Regions from separate parts of the Homo sapiens genome. Here region 1 is linked to region 2. Evidence: fine-mapped expression QTL. A gene starts in region 2. The other region holds a variant in brackets. All regions are shown on one strand. Distances are between the middles of the regions. Region 1 overlaps DTX1 (deltex E3 ubiquitin ligase 1). Region 2 holds the start of OAS3 (2'-5'-oligoadenylate synthetase 3).

What was found. PIP is the estimated chance that this variant, and not a neighbour inherited with it, causes the effect.
Region 1: its variant is fine-mapped to the expression of OAS3 in whole blood (TOPMed, PIP above 0.99).

Annotation. Positions count from the first base shown.
Region 1 is chr12:113,057,569-113,067,603 of GRCh38, forward strand. It overlaps DTX1 (deltex E3 ubiquitin ligase 1), which reads left to right. Exons shown (of 10, transcript NM_004416.3): 2 at 1-883. The coding sequence starts at 625. Among named protein-coding and RNA genes, the nearest start is that of DTX1, 5.9 kb to the left of the region's middle. RefSeq lists enhancers at 400-1,188, 7,700-8,258, 9,500-10,000 and a silencer at 7,743-7,943. The variant A/C (reference allele first, on the strand shown) is at 3,807.
Region 2 is chr12:112,933,812-112,943,905 of GRCh38, forward strand. OAS3 (2'-5'-oligoadenylate synthetase 3) reads left to right here and starts at 4,663. Exons shown (of 16, transcript NM_006187.4): 1 at 4,663-4,896; 2 at 7,759-8,041. The coding sequence starts at 4,720. RefSeq lists enhancers at 2,316-2,485, 4,282-4,451, 4,346-4,655, 4,619-4,788, 5,212-5,381 and 3 more and a silencer at 4,876-4,965.

The DNA.
Region 1 (10,035 bases), 120 kb after region 2:
CCCTCCCCCGTGCGTTCTGCGGCCACCCAGGCCTTCCAGGACACCGTGGAGAGGGAACAAGGGGGCAGGGACGCCCCCTTCGGCAGGAGCCGTCGGAGAAGGGGGCCCAGACCGGAGGGAGGCGAGAAGCCCCACTGAAGCCGGGCGCAGGGTCTGGGACGCAGTTGGGAGTGCAAAGGGCTGGCTGAGAGCCGCAGGAGCAGCAGGCTGTGGCCCAGGCCTCCTGGGTGACAGGCCCTGTCTGGCGGGGAAGAGGGACCAAGAGACAACACGGAAGAGGCTGGACCTCGAACAGGGGCGGCTGCCTCACTCCCTACCTGAGCCAGCCGAGGGGGCCAAGGACTTTAGAGCTGTTTCCTCCGGCATAAGAGAGACACTTGCTTTCCAGGGCAGCACCCTTTATCGGAGAAGGCTCTACAGGGAAGGGGTCTTTGCAGCCTGGATGGCCATCCCACATTCCTTTAACGGAGGTCTCTAGGCCTCAGAGAGAACCCAGAGTTAGAAAGGAGGCCAGACGGTCCTTGCTGTCCCCCTGGGGAGAGAGGAAGTTGCCGCCTGCTGCCAGGCCCAGGAGGAGCTGGGCCTGCAATAGTGGGGGACCTGGCCCCTGAGGCAGTGGCGGCCATGTCACGGCCAGGCCACGGTGGGCTGATGCCTGTGAATGGTCTGGGCTTCCCACCGCAGAACGTGGCCCGGGTGGTGGTGTGGGAGTGGCTGAATGAGCACAGCCGCTGGCGGCCCTACACGGCCACCGTGTGCCACCACATTGAGAACGTGCTGAAGGAGGACGCTCGCGGTTCCGTGGTCCTGGGGCAGGTGGACGCCCAGCTTGTGCCCTACATCATCGACCTGCAGTCCATGCACCAGTTTCGCCAGGACACAGGTGAGCAGACACCCACCCCATGCCACCCGCCCCGCCGAGCCATCACTACCTTGCAGCGTAGGATGCTGAAAATCCCAGTAAATCTGCTGATGCCAAATCCCTTCCCCATCTCCCTGCCTCACCTCCAGAAAAACAGGGCAGTCTAACCTTGTCCAGTTTAAGACTTGGATTCCAATGCAGCCTCTGAGCAAGCTGTAGGGCCTTGAGCAAGTTGCATCATCTCTCTGAGCCTCAGTTTCCTCATCTGCAAAATGGGTAGATCAATATCTCTCACAGCTGAGTGAGGATTAAATAAAATTGTGCTCACTGAGCACAGAACCTAGAACAGCAGTAGCATGGGATTGTAGAATAAGGGCTTTACATGCACTTCCTCATTTGATTTTTCCCAAGAATCACAGGCAGTAAGTCTGTGTATTGTTGTATTATTATGAGTCCCATTTTATAGATGAAGAAACCGAGTCTCCCAGAAGCTGAGTGATTTAAACTCAGAGCTGGGATTTAAACCCAGGCGGTTGAGTTCCAGAACCAAAGTTCTTAACTGGTATCCTATACTGGCTCCAAGTGTTGGTTTGTGGGGTGGAGTCGTGCTGGTGGTAATTAATTGGGGATGGGGGGCGTTGGTGGTGTTGATGGTGGGGTGAGGTGGCAATGATGGAGGAGACAGTGTTAGCGGTTGTGTTGGTGGTGACTCAGTGATAGTATTGATGGTGGTGGGGTCTTGGTGACAATGGAGGGATGGATGATGGTGACGTGGCAGTGTTGGTGGTGATGTCAGTGATAGCGTTAACCATGGGATTCAGTGGTGTTGGTGACATTGATAGTTGTGTTGGTGGTGGTGCTGGAAGTGGTGTGATGGGGTGGTGATGATGGAGAAAATGAGAGAATGATGTTGGTGGCAGTCTTCGTGGCCATGTGGTGTGGCTGGTAGCCCTGTGTGTGGCTGTTACTTAGTGGTATTGGTGATCCTGTTGTGGTTGTAATGATGGTGATGTTGATGGTTGCGTTGGTGGTAATGTGATGGCTGATGATGGAGATAAAATCGATGAGGTCCCACTCTCAGGCCTACTCTCTTTTGTTCTGGAGATTTGTCATCGTTGGGGAGATCTCCCTGAGTCATTGCCCGGTGGTATCTGTGACAAGCTCCATGGGCAGTGGGGACTGGTGGGGTCCTGCCGTGCAGAAGCAGCCTAGAAATCCTTGGCATGTTTGACCCCCCAAGGACCAGCTGATGGGGTTTGGGGAAGTTCCTATGAATCCCTGGATGACAGAACCACACGTAATAACCCCAGGCTGGTAGGATGCTCGCTTTCCCTCTAGAGCTGTGCCAACCAATATGTTAGCCACCAACCACATGTGGCTACTTAAATTTACATTAATTAAAACTAAGTAAAATGTAAAATCCAGTTCTTCAGTCTCACTAGCCACACTTCAAGTGCTCATAGCCACATGTGTCTTGTGGTACCTTGTGGGCCAGTGTAGATCCAGAACATTGCATTGTTGCAGAAAGTTCTATTACACCATGCTAGTTAGAAAGGAGGCCAGCCTTTCTAACTAGCACAGTCCAATATAAGTTTCTGCAATGATTGAACTTTCCAATAGTCCGGAACATTGCTAGGTACCCACAGAGTGCTTACCATGTCTGGAAACACAGGCGAATTCATAACAAATGGCTTATTGATGGTACAGATTAGTACATCTATGTTTCCGTAACTCCAGGCATTGACCACCATCACTGATGGTGCCAATTGTTCATGCATTCCATCATATGATTATTTATTGATCTCTGCTGTGTGTCAATTTCTGTGCTAAGCACTGGAGTACAGCAGGGAGCAAGACAAAGTCATCAGTCGAGGTCTTGTGCTGGAGGACCTACACTGAAGGTCCTGGTGTGGTCAGGGAGCAAGCAAACATATCACCACAGAGACAATCAGTGGCAGATCCGAGAGCATGAACTAAACCTGGCCCAGAGGTACTCAGGGAAGGCTAGCCTGAGAAAGTGATGTTTGAACAGAGATCTGAAGAATGAGTGAGGGTGCCAGTGTCCCAGGCAGAGGGCACAGCCAGTGCAAAGGCCCTGGGGTAGGAAGGGGCAGAGGACATTTAAGTCCGTTCTGTTTGGGATGCATCTCCCACCAAGGGGAAGATGGTGCAAGATGGCAGCTGAGCAAGGACCGGATGTACAGGCCTGGACAGCCACGCAAAGAACTTTGAATTTGATCCAGAGAGTAGAAGTCATCATTAGCTCCATGTGCCCATTCTTCCAGAGAGGCACCAAGGACCTGATGGAAGAAGGGGAAGTGTTGCACATTACCCGCCCCATTCTGTTTTCTCCTAGGGGTAGAGGGCAGGGCTGTGAGAGCAGAAGTGGGTAGGTGTCACTCCTTGCTAGGAGGTCTGGTGTTCTGCAGGTTCAGAGCTAATGCTGGGTGTAGAGATCTTCCGGGACCTAGCTGGGTTGGGTATGGGCGGCAGGGTCCTTAGAAGCAGGGACAGACTCCCCACAAGGCTGCCAAGTTGGCAACTTTACCTTTGATCCTCTTATCTTTGGGGGGACCCCCATTTCTATTCCCAGCATCCCCTTATGTTCCCGAGTCCCCAGACTTGCACACTCCCCTTTCATCAGGCCCCATTCTCTCAATAGTACCCCTTTTATGGTTCAGCCTCACTGGATCCCCCAGAAGTTCAGCTCTGGTCACTTCCCCTCTCCCTCTCTCCAGAGCTGTTCACTCCACACCTGCCCCCTGTTTGCCGGAAAAGGGAAAAAAAACACTCATTCCTAAATGGACTCCTGGGAGCCTGCCAGGAACCCCCTCCCACCCCAACCAGAGAGGGAGGAAGGCCTGGAAACCTATTGCGATTGGCAGGAGACCTCAGCTGCCTGGGAACCTGCTGGAGAGTGGGGCAAGAGGCCTCCTCACCAGAT[A/C]TGTGAGGGTTTTTCCCTCGCTTTACCCAGGAGCAAAACAATGTCAAGAAAGGACGTCTTGTCCTCATTGGTAACGCACTGGAAAAGAGCCTCAACCGGCAGGGAGCAGACCTGAGTGCCAACGGTGTGACCTCAGGCCTCTCCAGGTCTCAGTTTCCACATCCGTGAAATGGGTGAGAGGATCACCTCTCCAGCAGGGTTGTCGGGTTGAACAGAGAGAATCTGGCTGATTTTATCCCACAAACATCAACTAATTATCTACTGTGCATCTAGCACGTGCTCACCACTGTGGGTACAAGAGAGACAAGCAAAAGATCTTAAATCTTTTTTTTTTCTTCTTTTTTTGAGACAGTGTCTCACTCTGTCTCCCAGGCTAGAGTACAGTGGTGTGATGTCGGCTCACTGCAGCCTCTTTCCCCGGGTTCAAGTGATTCTCGTGCCTCAACCTCCCAAGTAGCTGGCATTACAGGCAAGCTACCACATACCACACCCGGCTAATTTTTGTATTTTTAGTAGAGATGGGGTTTTACCCTGTTGGCCAAGCTGGTCTTGAACTCCTGGCCTCAAGTGAGCCGCCCGCCTCGGCCTCCCAAAGTGCTGGGATTACAAGCGTGAGCCACTGTGCCTGGCTGTGAATCTTGAAAATATTATATTTCATACACACACACACACACACACACACACACACACACACACTCCAACATAATGCTGTAAAACCCAAAACTCATGTGTATGTGCTGAAATCAACACAAGCTTCTGTCTAGATTTTCTAATTGTAAAATTCTTGATATGTTCATTGAAGCTGAACTTGAACTTTGAGGGGAGACTGCCCTAGCTTTGCTAGTTTCCCAATGCAGGAGCTGGCTGATTTTTTTCTAATAGCATCAGATAATAAATCTTTTAACTTTGTGGGACCTGCAGTCTCTGTTGTAACTATTCAACTCTATCGGAGCAGAAAAGCAGCATAGACAATATGTAAGTGAATGCGTGTGGCTGTGTTCTAATCAAACTAGTTGTGGACACAGAAATTTGAATTTCATATCTTTTTCACGGGTCATGAAATATTCTTTTTTTTCCCCCAACCATTTAAAAATGTAAAAGCCATTCTTACTTCCTGAGCTGCACGATAGCAGATGGTGGGTGGATTTGGCCTGTGTGCTGCAGGTTCACTGACCCCTGCCCCACATGTTCTGAACCTGAGCATGGGGTAAGACCGTGCTGGTGCCACAGGACACCCAGCATGGCTTATCCACCCCTTGTGGTGTGTACCAAGGTACACGTGCGTGTGCGTACACACACACAGCACCAGTCTGCTCGCACAATGCCGACACACACATGCCCTGTGTATGTGCCTCCCGTGCAGTGCAGCCAGCGGAAGAAAGCCCCGGTGTCAGGCTGGGGCCACAGGGGAGAAGCCAGGCTCTGGCCCCACAGGGGCTGCGGTTTGTTCAGCCGTGCCCCCTCACCTTTCCCCTGCTGGGCTGTTTTCACTGCTCCCTGCAGGGGGTGAGGTTCCCTTTGAAGCCCTCCAGGTCCAGAGCCCAGAGTCTGGACTGGAAACTGGAGCCCCTCCACGGGGAGGCCTAATGCTGTGACCCTGAGCTGGATGATGTTAGATCAATCACGGTGGTGTCCCAGGCAGAGGGTTGGAGGGAGAGTCAGAGCTGGGCGAGGGATGGGTCGCTTGCTCGCTTCGCAGTACTGAGCCAAGTGCCCGGTTTCCCTCAAAGCTTTCTTTCTTCATTTCCCTCTGTCTCCAACCGTCCCTCCCACAGACAAAGATTGCCACATATGGGAAGCCCAAGGCCGAAGGGTATGCTCAGCTGGTGGCTGGGCTGGGCCCAGGAGCCATCAGGGTCTTGGGGTGAGGGGGTTGGCTGCCACTGGCAGTCGGGGAAAGGTTTGAGAATGGCTTTCTGCTCCCAGAGAAGAAGCCACATCTTCCCTGGGGGGTCATTTACATCCCCTGCCACTGGGACAGCCGCCTCCGAGGGCCTCACCCAGACCCTGAATTTCCCACCCAGTTCACACAGCTGGACAGAGGTGTAACTCAGCCACTTCCGCAGAAGCTCCCAGCTCGCTCCCTGGCCTCATATGACTGGAGCTGGGGAGGGGCACCTATCTGCCTGGTATCTCCCATGTCGCTCTCCATGTGCTGCTGGAGGGGTGCATGGCAGCCTCCTGCCCCTTCTGCTGATGGGATAGCTGAGGCCGAGGGATGCCAGCTGGGGACCATCCAAAGATGCCATACCCGAGGCTGCAAGCCTGGCCTTTTCTGGTGCCCCCAAGCTGGCCAACAGGCTGGAGTGGCAGGTGGTGGCTGGTTCTGGGATCTTCCAGCCTGCCTCCTTCCCTGGAAACCTTGGGCTTCACTCAGCCCTGGTCCCTGCCATGAGAGGAAGCACTATCTGAGGACACTTAGGCTGGAGACCCTTAGGCTGTTACCACCCAGATGGGAGGAGCTTTTCCCATCACCGGGGAAAACACCTCCAGAATTAGACACCAACTGGGGACAGTGAGGCCCAGAGAGGGTGAGTGACTTCCCCAAGGTCACACAGCCTACCAGTCCTAAGCTAGAGCCCAGGCCCCCCAGACAGGCCTTAGGGATAGAAAACAAGGTGACATTTAATGCCAGGGCTGAGAGAACCCCTTCCCCCTTCCCCCTTCTCCCTTGAGAGCGCTCTTGGGGCTTGTTGTCAGGGTCTAGCCCAAGGCAGGGACAGCCTGCACTACCCTGGAGGCCTCCAGGGCTCAGCTCCTGGTTACAGGACCCTTTGGGACCCTCTCTCCAGCCTCCTCACTGGAGACTAGGGCTGGGCCTGATGCCAGGGGCAAGAAAGACTATGTGTAGGGGCAGGGAGCGGCCCATCTCTGGTAGCAGCAGGTCCAGCTAATCCATATGTGGGTGCTCCCCAACCACCAGTCACGCTGTCTGTATTTCTACTATTGCAGACCCATGGTCTCTGGCTGCTTGGCTAACTCCAGAAGCCTGTTTTGAAACTAAATTCATCGCTCGTATTTGGTAGTCATTGGTGGCTTCTCAGTACCAGGTCCTGGGCTGGGTCTTGGGGACTCAGAGAGAAGGGCAAAATCCATTTCAGAGTCTAATCTATCCATTTCAGATCAGTTTCAGAGTCTAGTGAAGGTGAAGGCAAATGCATATCATGGAAATAGCCTTTGAACCCTCTGACTCATAAGGACAACAGATACAGACCTAAAACCCAGCTTGGCCCCTTGCTGGCTGTGTGACCATGGGCAAATTCCTTAACGTCTCTGAGTTTATTTCCTCCTCTGTAAAATGGGGATAAGAATAGTCCCTAGCTGGGAGGGTTGTCATGAGGACATAATGAGATACATAAATGAGATATGTAGATAAAAGCTTGGAGGATACTACTTTGCACGTAGTAAGCACTCATGCTCGAGGAAGAAAAAGATTTAAATGCCTCACTAGGCAGATGCACGGTGCCTTCAGCCATGGGATGTGCATGGTGTATGCCTGGAGCCTCTGAGAGGAGGACTTCCTGGAGGAGGAGTCCTTTGAGAGTGTGTGATTTGGGTAAATAGAATGATAGGAGGAACACTTACAGGTGGAGGAAACAGCAGGGGTCCTTCAGCAGGGTCCTGGAGGAGGGTCTCAGGCCTGGGTGGCAGAGGGAGGCTGTGATGGGAGATAGGGGATGGGTAGAGGAGGCCTCGTGGGGCCCACTGGGGCCTGGCAGGCTGGGCTGCCAGCTGCTGCCCTTTAGCAGCCAGGCCCCGGGGGACTCACAGCCACGCTGCAGGACCAGCCTCATTAATCACGGGCCCTTGGAGCTGGAGCAGGTGGGGCAGGGGCAGCCTCAGGCACTTCCTACAGTCTGTCTGGGTTCCCTTCACCCAGCCAGCGGGTGTCACCCCATTTTACACATAGTAAAGCTGAAGCTCAGAGGGTGGGGAGCCGCCTGCCGACGCTGAGAAGAGACGGGTCTGAGATCAGATCCAGGTCTGCAGCTGGGTGCGCACGGCCCTTCCCAGGCTCGCCCGGGCCACCGAGTACCTTGGACAGCACCATCAACGACCCGCCCGCGCCTTCCGGGCTGGGGGTGGGGATGCCCGGGACAGACCCCCTCGCAGCCCTCTCCCTCTCCTTCTCCTCCCCTCACCCCTTTCTCCTCCTTCTTCCCTCCCTCCTCCTCTCCAGCTTCCTCCCATCCCCCGCCTCATTCTTCCAAAGGAGCTGCGGAGTCTGACCTGGAGAGGAAGGAGGAGATGGAAGCTGTGATGGGAAGCGTGGGGGCTGGAGTAGGGGAGGTGATGCGGAAGTGACAGGTAGCGGGGCTGTGGAGGGGATGGTGAAGAAGGTGGTAAGGAGTGAAGCGTGAGGGGTTGGGAGGGGAGATGATGGAGGGTGTGATGAGAGGGTGACGAGGAGGGGCCAGGACGGGGAGGCCACGGGGAGGCCAAGGGGTTGGGGCAGGACTGGTCACAGTGGCTCCAAGTGCCCATTCAGGCAGTAGGCAATGGGGTTGAGGTCCCTAACTCTCTCTCCAGTGTGATGTTCTTGGTGCATGGGGGTGCCTGGGGTGCTCCCAGGCCTCCGCCCGCCACCTCTGTCTCTCCCTGGGCCTCCATCCTTCCACCTGGCTCTGGAATCACAACCGGTGGTAGCCAGTCCCCAGGACAGCTCCAGTCCCTTAGATAGTCACCCCCATGAGCCCACCCAGCCTCTGGGTTGACACAGACACCCCCAGCAGCCCCTAGCTGCCTCTGGCTGACATCAACTGAGGACATGGGGCCTGGAACCTGGAAACAGCTACCTCGGGGAATGCTGTTGGTGAGGGCCAGGCTCTGGGTTCCCATCCCAGCTGCTTACTAAGAATCATGGGGTGTGTAGGCCGGGTGTGGTGGCTCACATCTATAATCCCAGCACTTTGGGAGGCTAAGGTGAGTGGATCACCTGAGGTCAGGAGTTCGAGACCAGCCTGGCCAACATGGTAAAACCCCCTCTCTACTAAAAATACAAAAATTAGTGGGCATGGTGGTGGGCGCCTGTAATCCCAGCTACTCGGGAGGCCAAGGCAGGAGAATCACTTGAACCCGGGAGGTGGAGGTAGCAGTGAGCTGAGATTGAGCCATTGCACTCCAGCCTGAGTAACAGAGTGAGACTCCGTCTCAAAAAAAAAAAAAAGAATCGTAGTGGGTGGGGAGATTTGTGACCTTAAGTAAACCACACTCCCTCCCTGAGCCTCTGAGCCTCTGTTTCCTCACCTGTAATATGGACCTGATGATAGTACTGAACTTGTGTGATTGTGGTCACTATTCATTCATTCATCAGGAGTTTCATGAGCACCTACTGTGTGCCAGGCACTGTCCGGGCACTAGGAATGTCACAATCAACAGGACAGACACAGAAGCCCTCAAGGTGCTTCTGTTCTGGGGGTGAGGGGTGGAGTGATGATGGGTGTGATGCAGGAGGCCAGGCGCCAAGGAAGTCCCAGCATATAGGACTGTCCCCTACCTTGGAGCCCAGGAGCTGCCGGGCTAGGAGCTGAGTCTCCTCTAGGTCCCGCATAGTTGTGTCCTTGCTCGGCCACCCTGGCCAAGCGCCTCTCCCTCTCTGGGCTCCTTCCATCATCCCTCTGGAGCTGCTCCAGGCTGCTACTGCTGCCTGCACAGACAGCAGTGGCAGGCCGGTGACGGGGTGCATGAGGGAGTCTGGCGCTGGGCCCTGGAGCTGAGCACCCTGAGATGCAGAACAAAGGACGAGGCAATCAAAGGAGGCTGCCAGGACAGTCCTGCCAGCAGCTGCAGCACAGCCACCTCTTGTCCCGATGACCGACTGGGCCTTTGTCCCCTCCCCCTCCAACTGCAAGCAGAGCACGGTAAGAGGAAGCACAGAGTTTACCTGGAATACCACCTTCCCAGGGCCCTCCCCCTGGCTGGGGTAAGCATTGCCCTCCCCAGCTTCCTCTGTTCTAGGGGGCGAAGGTTCACTTGTTCCAAGGTGTTACTCACCTGGCCCTGTGGAAATGACAGTCAGGGAGCCTGGGTCCAAGGCCTGTCTCTAATTTGCCAGGTGATCTTGCCCAAGTTTCTCTCTGCAGCTCAGCTTACCCATCTACACAAAGGCTGCAAATTCAGATGCTTACAGGGCCTGGGCAACTAATAGAAGTGTGTGCAGTGTCTGGGAAGGCAGAGGTTTTTTAACTGTCTTGCTCTCCAGTGCCTGGTATGCAGCAGGTGCTCAATA
Region 2 (10,094 bases):
GGGAGGCAGAGGTTGCAGTGAGCCACGATAATGCCACTGCACTCCATCCTGGGCTACAGAGCGAAACTGTCAAAAAAAAAAAAAAAAAAAGGCACAAAAACAAGCAGAGGCTGGACCAGATGTGGCCCATGGGCCATAGTTTGCCAGTTTCTTCCAACATTTCATTAAGAAAAATTTCCAAGCAAACAGCCACATTGAAAGAATTTTGCAGTGAACACTCATATACTCACCACATAGATTTTACAATTAACGTTTTATTGCACTTGCTTGATTGCATATCTACAATTTCTTCATCCTTCTATCCATCCATGAATCCATCTTATTCTTTTGATGCATCAGAAGATTCTTTTTCTGCCAGGCATGGTGGCTCACACCTGTAATCCCAGCACTTCGGGAAGCCAAGGCCGTTGGATCACCTGAGGTCAGGAGTTCGAGACCACCCTGGCCAACATAGTGAAACCCCGTCTCTACTAAAAATACAAAAATTAGCCAGACATGGTGGCACACACCTGTAATCCCAGCTACTCGGGAGGCTGAGGCAGGAGAATTGCTTAAACCTGGGAGGCAGAAGTTGCAGTGAGCCGAGACCACACTGCTGCACTCCAGCCTGGGCTGTCTCAAAAAAAAAAAAAAAAAAAAAAAAAAAAAGGAAGGAAGGAAGGAAGAGAGAGAGAGAAAGAGAGGAAAGAAAGAAAGAAAGAAAGAAAGAAAGAAAGAAAGAAAGAAAGAGAGAAAGAAAAGAAAAGAAAAGAAAAGAAAGAAAAAGAGAGAAAAAGAGAAAAAGAAAGAAAGAATATTCTTTTTCAAAAAGAAACCAGCAGCAATTTCTTCCCGGGCCAGTACAAGGTGGTGAGTGAGTTGACTAAGCAGACAGGCAAAAAGAGAGAGAGTATCTGTAGGAGGATACTGTCACCTTTTATATATAGGCAATAAGCAATAGTTTTCCAAGGAGAACAGCAGATGATTTGCTACTGTATCAACCAAGAATATATTTGACCGTAGTAAGTAACAGAATGTGTAACAGACATTCTGAGTCATTTTGTTACACCCACAACTGTGGGTGACCTGTCCAGATATGCCTTCTAATTCCAAGCACCCCAAGAAAACCCCTGTGCTTAAGATTTTATCTAGCCATGAATCCAACATTTTCTATTTGCTTATTAATTTTTTGTCCATCTTCTCTCGTTAGAATATAAATTCCATGAGAGCAGAGGCCTTTTCACTTATTCACCACACATGTTCTGTGCTAGACCAGTGGCTACCATAAAGAAAACACTGAATAAATATTTATTTATTTATTTATTTATTTTATTTTTGAGCCAGAGTTTCACTCTTGTCATCCAGCCTAGAGTGCAATGGTGTGATCTTGGCTCACTGCAACCATTGCCTCCTGGGTTCAAGTGATTCTCCTGACTCAGACTCCTGAGTACCTGGGATTACAGGTGCCTGCCACCATACTCAGCTAATTTTTGTATGTTTAGTAGAGACGGGGTTTCACCATGTTGGCCAGGCCAGTCTCGAACTCCTGACCTCAGGTCATCCACCTGCTTTGGCCTCCCAAAGTGCTGGGATTACAGGCGTGAGCCACCGCACCTGGCCTTAATAAATATTTATAAGAATAAGGAAAGGATCTGTTTTCCACATCTCATAAGTTGTCTTTTATACCTTTCTTTTCTATGTTCTGCTTTCCTGTAATCTCGAGTAATTTCCTCCATTCCATCTTCCAGTTTACTGATTTTATCTTCAGGTATATTTATTCAGCCTATCTATGGAGAAGGTTCGGTTTTTCTGTTCATCTTTGGTTTTATTTTGCATTATGTTTTCACTTCCAATGTGATAGTGGTGATTGTTGACTTTCATCACTGTTCTTATTTCATGGATATGATGAATAATCATGAATACAATGAATAATTATAATGGATATAATATCTAATCCCTCTGAGGATATTAATTATATATTTCTAAGACCGTATTAGTCCAATTTGTACTTCTAAAACAGAAAGCCACAGACTGGGAAATTAGTAAAGAACAGAAATTTACTTATCACAGTTCTGGAGGCTGAGAAGTGCAAGACCAAGGCTTCAGCAGGTTAGGACCTGGTCTCTATGCTTCCAAGATGGCGCCTTGAAGAATGTTGTGTCTTTTGGAGGGGAGGAACACTATGTCCTCACATGGCAGAAAAGCAGAAGACAATGAGCCCATTCCTCCAAGCTCTTTTCACAGTGGCCATAATCCACTCACGTGGGCAGAGCCCTCATGACACAAACACCTCCTGTTAGACCCCACTTCCCAACTGCTGCATTGGGGAGTAAGTTTCCAACACATGAATTCTGGGGGACAAATTTAGACCACAGAAGACTCTTTCTCCTTTATTGATTATTTCAGTGTCCTTACATGTGAGTTTTTATGTTCATAGCATTGGATCTCCCAAAATAATTTGGCACCTTTGGATGTGTGCTTTTTGCTCACTGGGGATGTTCTGCTTGTCTCCCTGTGAAGTTGGTACCTTCTTACTGCAGCTGGAGGCAGAGATGAGGAAAGGGGATGTGCCAGGAATGAGTCTTCTGCATACAGGACTTCCTGTTCTTTCCAGATGTGGCCAGGTATGCTGTGTACTTCCCTGCCTCTCTGCCCCACCCTCACTGCTCCCTCCTTAGGCAGGCACCTCTGCTGCCTGTTACTCAACACAGAAAGGTTGGGGCGGGAGACCACATGTCTTTAGAGGCTGCCATTACTATGCCAGCACAACTGACAACCATGAGAGTTAACCTAGGGTCCCTTCTTTTCCTTCAATCCACTGCCTGGAGCCTGCAGCTCCTCAGAGCCTTTCCACTCTGCATAGGTACCCCCTCCTTTATGTGTTTTGGCTGCAATTTCCTCCTTCATCCAGTCTCATATCTCTGACAGGGATCTCAGATTCCAGTTTACCTGGGACACCTCTGGTTAGGACCCAGCAACATTATTAAAGTTTTTCTATCGCTTTCCTGCCACCTCTAGAGGCCTGGGATGGACGTTGAAGGCTTATGCATATGTTCAGTCCACCATCATGACCCAATATTGACCCTTCTGCGTTCCATCTTCTAAAAATGCCTCAAATGTCCCGCCCCCTTGACTCCACTTTTTCTCAGTTTCCAACCCTGTTGATTTCCATTATGCTTTTAATATATCTTTGCTGCTATTTTAATAGAATTTTGAGCATGTGTTCAATCCACTATCTTGAATGGAAAGTTTCTAAAGTGGCCTGTGACTCAGGAAGAAGACTGTGATTAATGGGCGAGAATGAAAATCATTGCTCAATCCCTTGACTTAAATCCCCACCACAACACCTGACCTACAAAACCTGCCCATACTTGAATATTCCAAGTGATGCAGCATTCACTACTCAAAATATTAGCTGGTGTACATATTACAGACCCAGCATCTCTCCCTCTAGTTGACCATGACCTCTGAAATTCACACTCTGATCCTATCTATTTCCTTTCAGTTACCGTGCAGATGTCAGGAAGCACTTGTTAAGACTATTACCTGAAGTGTACTCAGAGGCAGAGTAAATGCTGGGTCCCGGAGCAGACAGGAGAGAGGACCTGGGAGTTTTTTAGTAAGATGGGGAGGAGGAGATAGGCTATGGCTTGGACCAGGCCTGGAAGAGAGCTCAGGTGTGCAGTCTCTAGGAACCCGGGTGGAGAAGCAGCAGGAAATAAGCAGAAAAAGGAGACAGGCCATGAAGATAGAAGCGCAATGGTCCTGGATTCAAATCTCCACTCTGCAGCTTATAGCTTACAGTCCGCTTAGCTTTGTGCCCATTCCAAGAGGATTTCCCTATTGTAGCTTTACAATGTTTTAATATGTAGTATTGTTGTGCAAGGTACCATCCTAAACTGACTGACTTTCCTTCCTCCTTCTCCTCCAAAATAATTTTTAATTCTTGCAGACAGACTTTAGATCGTGTGTTTGAAGTTTTTAAAGATGGAATTTTTATTGGAACTGCATTACACGTATAAATTATTTAGGAAGAGTTGGCTTCTGAAGAGGGCAGCTCTGTGGGCTTGGGCTGGGTTTGAATCCAGCCAGACAACTTTCCAGCTGTGTTACCTTGGACAGTTACCTAGTTCCTCTGTACCTTGACTTCCTCATCTGTCAAATGGGTGATGATAATAGCACCTACACCATGGTCGTTGGGAGGAGTCAGTGAGAGTCTCCAAGTGTGCTTTATTATCGTTGGTGGTGGTAGTGGTGTTTAGAACGCATCCCTCAGTCAGACAGCGAGGTAGGACTTCTCCGTTTATTAAATCCTGACCTTTTTTTTCCATGTAAAACCTGCACGTTTCTGAAATGCTCAGAGTACGTTACTCAGTATGTACCCATATGTTCTGTGGGTATACTTTGTTAGGTTGTGATTAGTTCGTTGGAGCTGGTGGTTGCAGGGACGGCTGGAAGCAAGGAGATGAAGGAGAGGAAGTCGTAGCTGGGAAGGGGACCAGGAAGTGGGTGTCAGGTCCAAGAGCTGCTAGAAAGAAACGAAACTGAAAGCAGGGAATTTCCCAAGTTTGGGGAAGACAGGAACTGCAGCGCCCCTCCCCGTTTCACGCCACGCGCGGGACCGAGGACCTAGGACCTGGCCAGCTGGGCGTGGTTCGGAGAGCCGGGCGGGAAAACGAAACCAGAAATCCGAAGGCCGCGCCAGAGCCCTGCTTCCCCTTGCACCTGCGCCGGGCGGCCATGGACTTGTACAGCACCCCGGCCGCTGCGCTGGACAGGTTCGTGGCCAGAAGGCTGCAGCCGCGGAAGGAGTTCGTAGAGAAGGCGCGGCGCGCTCTGGGCGCCCTGGCCGCTGCCCTGAGGGAGCGCGGGGGCCGCCTCGGTGCTGCTGCCCCGCGGGTGCTGAAAACTGTCAAGGTGAGGTCCCACCTCGGGGTCTTTATGTGTCCAAAGGGGAGTCCTGGGAGGACGCTTAAGCCTCACATAGGCTTACGGTGGGGGTGGCTTTATCCGCTTGTGCACCTCATTCATTTCTTTAACAAATACTTCCAATGTGCCAGCCCCGTGCTAACTCCCCCGAACATACGAGCCAGGTAGGTACTCTTAAGCCCGCTTGACAGATAGAGAAAATGAGGCACAGAGAGGTACAGTGACGTGTCCGATCCTGTAAGAGGCCCAGCCAGGATTCAAATCCAAGTAGCCTGATTCCTGCATCTCTACTCTCAGAGGCTGCTTCTTATCCATTCATTCACTCATTCACTCATTCTCCCAGTCATTCAAACAGACTGTGGGCCTCACACTATGCCAGACCTTAAGGTTACAGAAGTAATAACACTCCGCGTAACAGCCAGAGTAGCCCAATTTATTGAGACATTATCAAATAACAATGAAAATTATCTCATTAAATGAGTATTACCTCATTTCATCCCCACGTTCAGTGAGGCAGGTATTATTGTACCTGTTTTATGGATAGGGAAACTGAGGCTAGACGCTAAATTACTACTCTGAGTCACATCTTTTTTTTTTTTTTTTTTTTTTTTTTTTTTTGAGACAGGGTCTCGCTCTGTCACCCAGGCTGGAGTGCAGTAGCATGATCTTGGCTCACAGCAACCTCCGCCTCCTGGGCTCAAGTTATTCTCACACCTCAGCCTCCCAAGTAGCTGGCACTACAGGTGCACACTACCATGCCTGGCTAATTATTTGCATTTTTTGTAGAGATAGAGTTTTGCCGTGTTGCCCAGGCTGGCCTGGAACTCCTGGGCTCAAGTGATCCACTTGCCTTGGCCTTTCAAAGTGCTGGGATTACAGGTGTGAGCCACCATGCCCAGGTAATTTTTGCATTTTTTGTAGAGACGGGATTTCACCATGTTGCCCAGGCTCCGGGTCACTTTTTGTCACTTAAATACAGCCACACTGCCACTGTGATCCCAGGACACTCGCAGATTCAGGGAGGAGACAAGTCATGAGCTACCTTATCCTCAGGGTAGATTTGGGGGTGCCAGGAGTGGATTGATGGAGGGAACCTGGGTGTGCTAGAGGAGGTTGTCAGGAGAGGGAGTGAAAACGCAGAGTAGAAATGGCCTCAGAGCACCTAGTGGTTTCCTGGGGCTGACTCTCAGCTTGGGAGGTGGGGAAGGAGGAGACACTTGTCGCCTAGGAGGTGTGAAGTCCCGTTTCTACCTTGGAGATGGACAGGAGGGATTTCTGTGCAGCAAGGGAAAGCCCTGGCATCCTTAGCTTCCCTGGAAAGGGGTGGGAGGGGGTTCTGGAGCACAATCTCCCTGTGCTTTCATTGTCTCCTTTGTAAAGTGAGCACGGTGCAATCTCCCTGTGCTTTCGTTTCCTCTTTTGTAAAGTGGTACCTTCCTTCTGGGGCTGTGAGGAAGGTTCAATGAGATGAGAGTGTGCAAAACGTGCAGGAAGTGCCCAGCCTGTAATATTCCCTGTTCCCACTTTGTCAGCAGCCCCCAGATGGTGGGAGCTGGTAGTAAAAGGACTGGCATAATCATCGGGATAAGTAGGGGGTCCCAGTTTGAGGCAAGCCTTGCTCCTGGAGGGCTCCATCCTGGTTCTTGCTGTTTACTGGCTGTGTAACTCATTTCACCATCTGAGCCTCACTCCCCATATCTGCAGCCACATGTAACTACATCACAGTTGTTTTGTGTTGGAAGTGAGATTAGAGACGTCAGATCCCAGACACAGAACAGTGGCTCTGACAATGTTTAGGAGTTTCTTTTCCAAATCCTCAGGTTGGAAGCTTTGCCGAAAGAAACACTAATCACACAGGTCTCAGAAATTGAGTCATACCACAGTTCTGTACCCATTCTGAGCAAAGATTGCAAATGTGTGTTCTGCAAAGCAGAATTTGTTTTACCTGCGGTCTTGAGTTTTTAAAAAGTTAGTTGCCAACATTTAAAAATCATGGATATAGGCCTGGCATGGTGGTTCATGCCTGTAATCCCAGCACTTTGGGAGGCCAACGAGGGCAGATCACTTGAGGTCAGGAATTCGAGACCAGTCTGGCCAACATGGTGAAACCCCATCTCTACTAAAAATACAAAAATTAGCCAGGCATGGTGGCGCACACCTGTAGTCCCAGCTACTCAGGAGGCTCAGGTGGGAAAATCACTTGAACTCATGAGATGGAGGTTGCAGTGAGCTGAGATGGTGCCACTGCACTCCAGCCTAGGCAACAGAGTAAGTCTCTGTCTCAAAACTAAAAATAAAAATAAAATTACAAGTATGGATTTAGCCCAGCACGGTGGTGCATGCCTATAGTCTCAGACACTTGGGAGGCTGAGGCAAGAAGATCACTCGAGCCCAGGAATTCCAAGCTGCAGTGAGCTACAATCGTGTCTGTGAATAGCCACTGCACTCCAGCCTGGGCAACATAGCAAGACCCCATCTCTTTAAAAAAATGTAAAAACTAGCCAGGCATGGTAGCGTGTGCCTGTAGTCTCAACTACTTGAGAGGCTGAGGCAGGAGGATCACTCGAGCCCAGGAGTTCAAGGCCGCAGTGAGCTATGTGTTCCAGCCTGGGTGACAGAACAAGACCCTGTTTCTATGGAAAAAAAATCATGAGTTTACATGTTAAAATTGCTTCTCTTGAAATCTCGAGCCTGGCTACCCTGGGCCCACATTCCCGCGTGGCTTCAATGCCTACAGCCATGTGGCCACAGTCTCTCCCCAGCACACTTGCCTCACTCAAGTTGCCTGCCAGGTTGCAAGGCCACTAGAATTGGACAGTATGAAATTCTGAGTTATTTTTCTTTGCCCAGGGAGGCTCCTCGGGCCGGGGCACAGCTCTCAAGGGTGGCTGTGATTCTGAACTTGTCATCTTCCTCGACTGCTTCAAGAGCTATGTGGACCAGAGGGCCCGCCGTGCAGAGATCCTCAGTGAGATGCGGGCATCGCTGGAATCCTGGTGGCAGAACCCAGTCCCTGGTCTGAGACTCACGTTTCCTGAGCAGAGCGTGCCTGGGGCCCTGCAGTTCCGCCTGACATCCGTAGATCTTGAGGACTGGATGGATGTTAGCCTGGTGCCTGCCTTCAATGTCCTGGGTGAGGGGTTCCTAGACCATTCCAGGGTTGGGGGCAAAAGATCATTGGGAACAACACAGGACTTCCAATTCTAGCCCAGCCACCAACTTGCTGTTTGACCTGGGCCAGCCTCTACCCCTCTCTCAGCCTCAGTCTGGGGACTAAACATATTGGACTTGTGCCAGACAAAGGCAGAGAAACCCCAGTTCCTCCTGGATCTGTGGTCCTGCTGTCAAGATGCTTGGCCCTCCCACAGGCATCTGGGAGTTTCCCTCAGCCACTGCCTGGAGCGGTTACTGCTCAGCCCTTCCACAAATACTCCCGAAAGCTAAGCCAAGTGGACATGTGGCTAGCAGTAGGGGCCTGGGGACGAAACCAGAATTCTGCAAAATCTTGTATTTTATGTTGAAAACATCAATGTGATTTTTGTGTTCTCCTTCGTAATACACGTATGCTTGAGTTAAGATAAAAATAGGCCTCTGTGTCCTCATCTGTAAAATGAGGATAATACTAATGGGGATAATAGTAATCTTATAGAGTTGTCAGAAGAATTAAATGCATTAATATATGTAATCAAGCTTAGAAGTGTGTCTAGTGGGCCAGGCGCAGTGGCTCATGCCTGTAATCCCAGCTTCGGGAGGCCAAGTTAGAGACTGCTTGAGCCCAGGAGTTCAAGATCAGCCTTGGCAAAATAGCAAGATCTAGTCTCTACAAATAATAATAATTTTAAAAAATAGCCAGGTGTAGTAGTACATGCCTCCCTCTGATCCCAGCTACTGGAGAGGCTGAGGTGGGAGGATTGTTTGAGCCCAGGCAGTGGAGGCTGCAGTGAATTGTGATTTTGCCACTACAATCTGTCTGAGTAAGACTCTTCTTAAAAAAAAAAAAGAAATAAGAATGTCTAGCATGTGATAAGGGTTGTAAGAGTGTTTACTATTATTATTATTTCTATTATTGTTGTTGTTTCTATTATTATTGTTATTATTATTATTATTATTATTTACCTTGATGATCTGGGGGATAGCTTTATCCTTTGGGCAGATAGCCACATCCCCTATGCCTGGTACCCTAAGCCTAGTGTACCCACATACTGGGTACACACACACACACGCACACACATTTTTAAGACAGGGTCTCACTCTGTCACCCAGGTTGGAGTGTGGTGGCATGATCTTGGCTCACTGCAACCTCCGTCCTGGGTTCAAGCAATCCTCCCACCTCAGCCTCCCGAGTAGCTGGGCTACAGGCATGCACCACCATGCCTGGCTAATTTTTGTATTTTTTATAGAGATAGGGTTTCACCATGTTGTCTAGGCTGGTCTTGAACTTCTGAGATCAAATGATCCACCTGCCTCAGCCTCCCAAAGTGCTAGGATTACAGGCACAAGCCACCCCACCCAGCCTGGGTACACATATATTAATCATAATAGTTACTACTTATTAAATGCTTAACTATTCCAAGAACTTGACATGTTTTATCTCATCAATTCTTCACAACAAACTTATGAGGTCTGTACTGTTTCAGCTTCAATTTTACCATTGGGGAAACTGAGGCTCAGAGACATACAGTGACCCACCCAAAGCCACACAGCAGGCAAGCGGTAGCAGCAACCTCAGGGAATTATGGAAAGTGTTTACTTCTCCCAAGCCATGCCCATGGGAGTGGTGGCGGAAAAGGCGCACCCTGCAAAGTCCACTGGCTCTGAGCTCAAATCCTGCCTCCATCGCATGCTGGCTGTGTAACCTTGGGCAAATCATGGAATTTCTCTGTGCCTCAGCTTCCTCAGCTATCAAGTGGGATGAAGAACTGTACTTGCCTCATAGGGTTGTGGTGGGGATACATGTAAAGACCTTCTGTCCAGTGCCCAGTATGCAGTAAAAAAAATATATATTTTTTTCTAAGACAGAGTTTCGCTCTGTCCCCCAGGCTGGAGTGCAGTGGTACGATCTCAGCTCACTGCAACCTCTGCCTCCTGAGTTCAAGCAATTCTCGTGCTTCGGCCTCTGGAGTAGCTGGGATTACAGGCGAGTGCCAACATGACTGGCTAATTTTTGTATATTTTGTTGGCCAGGC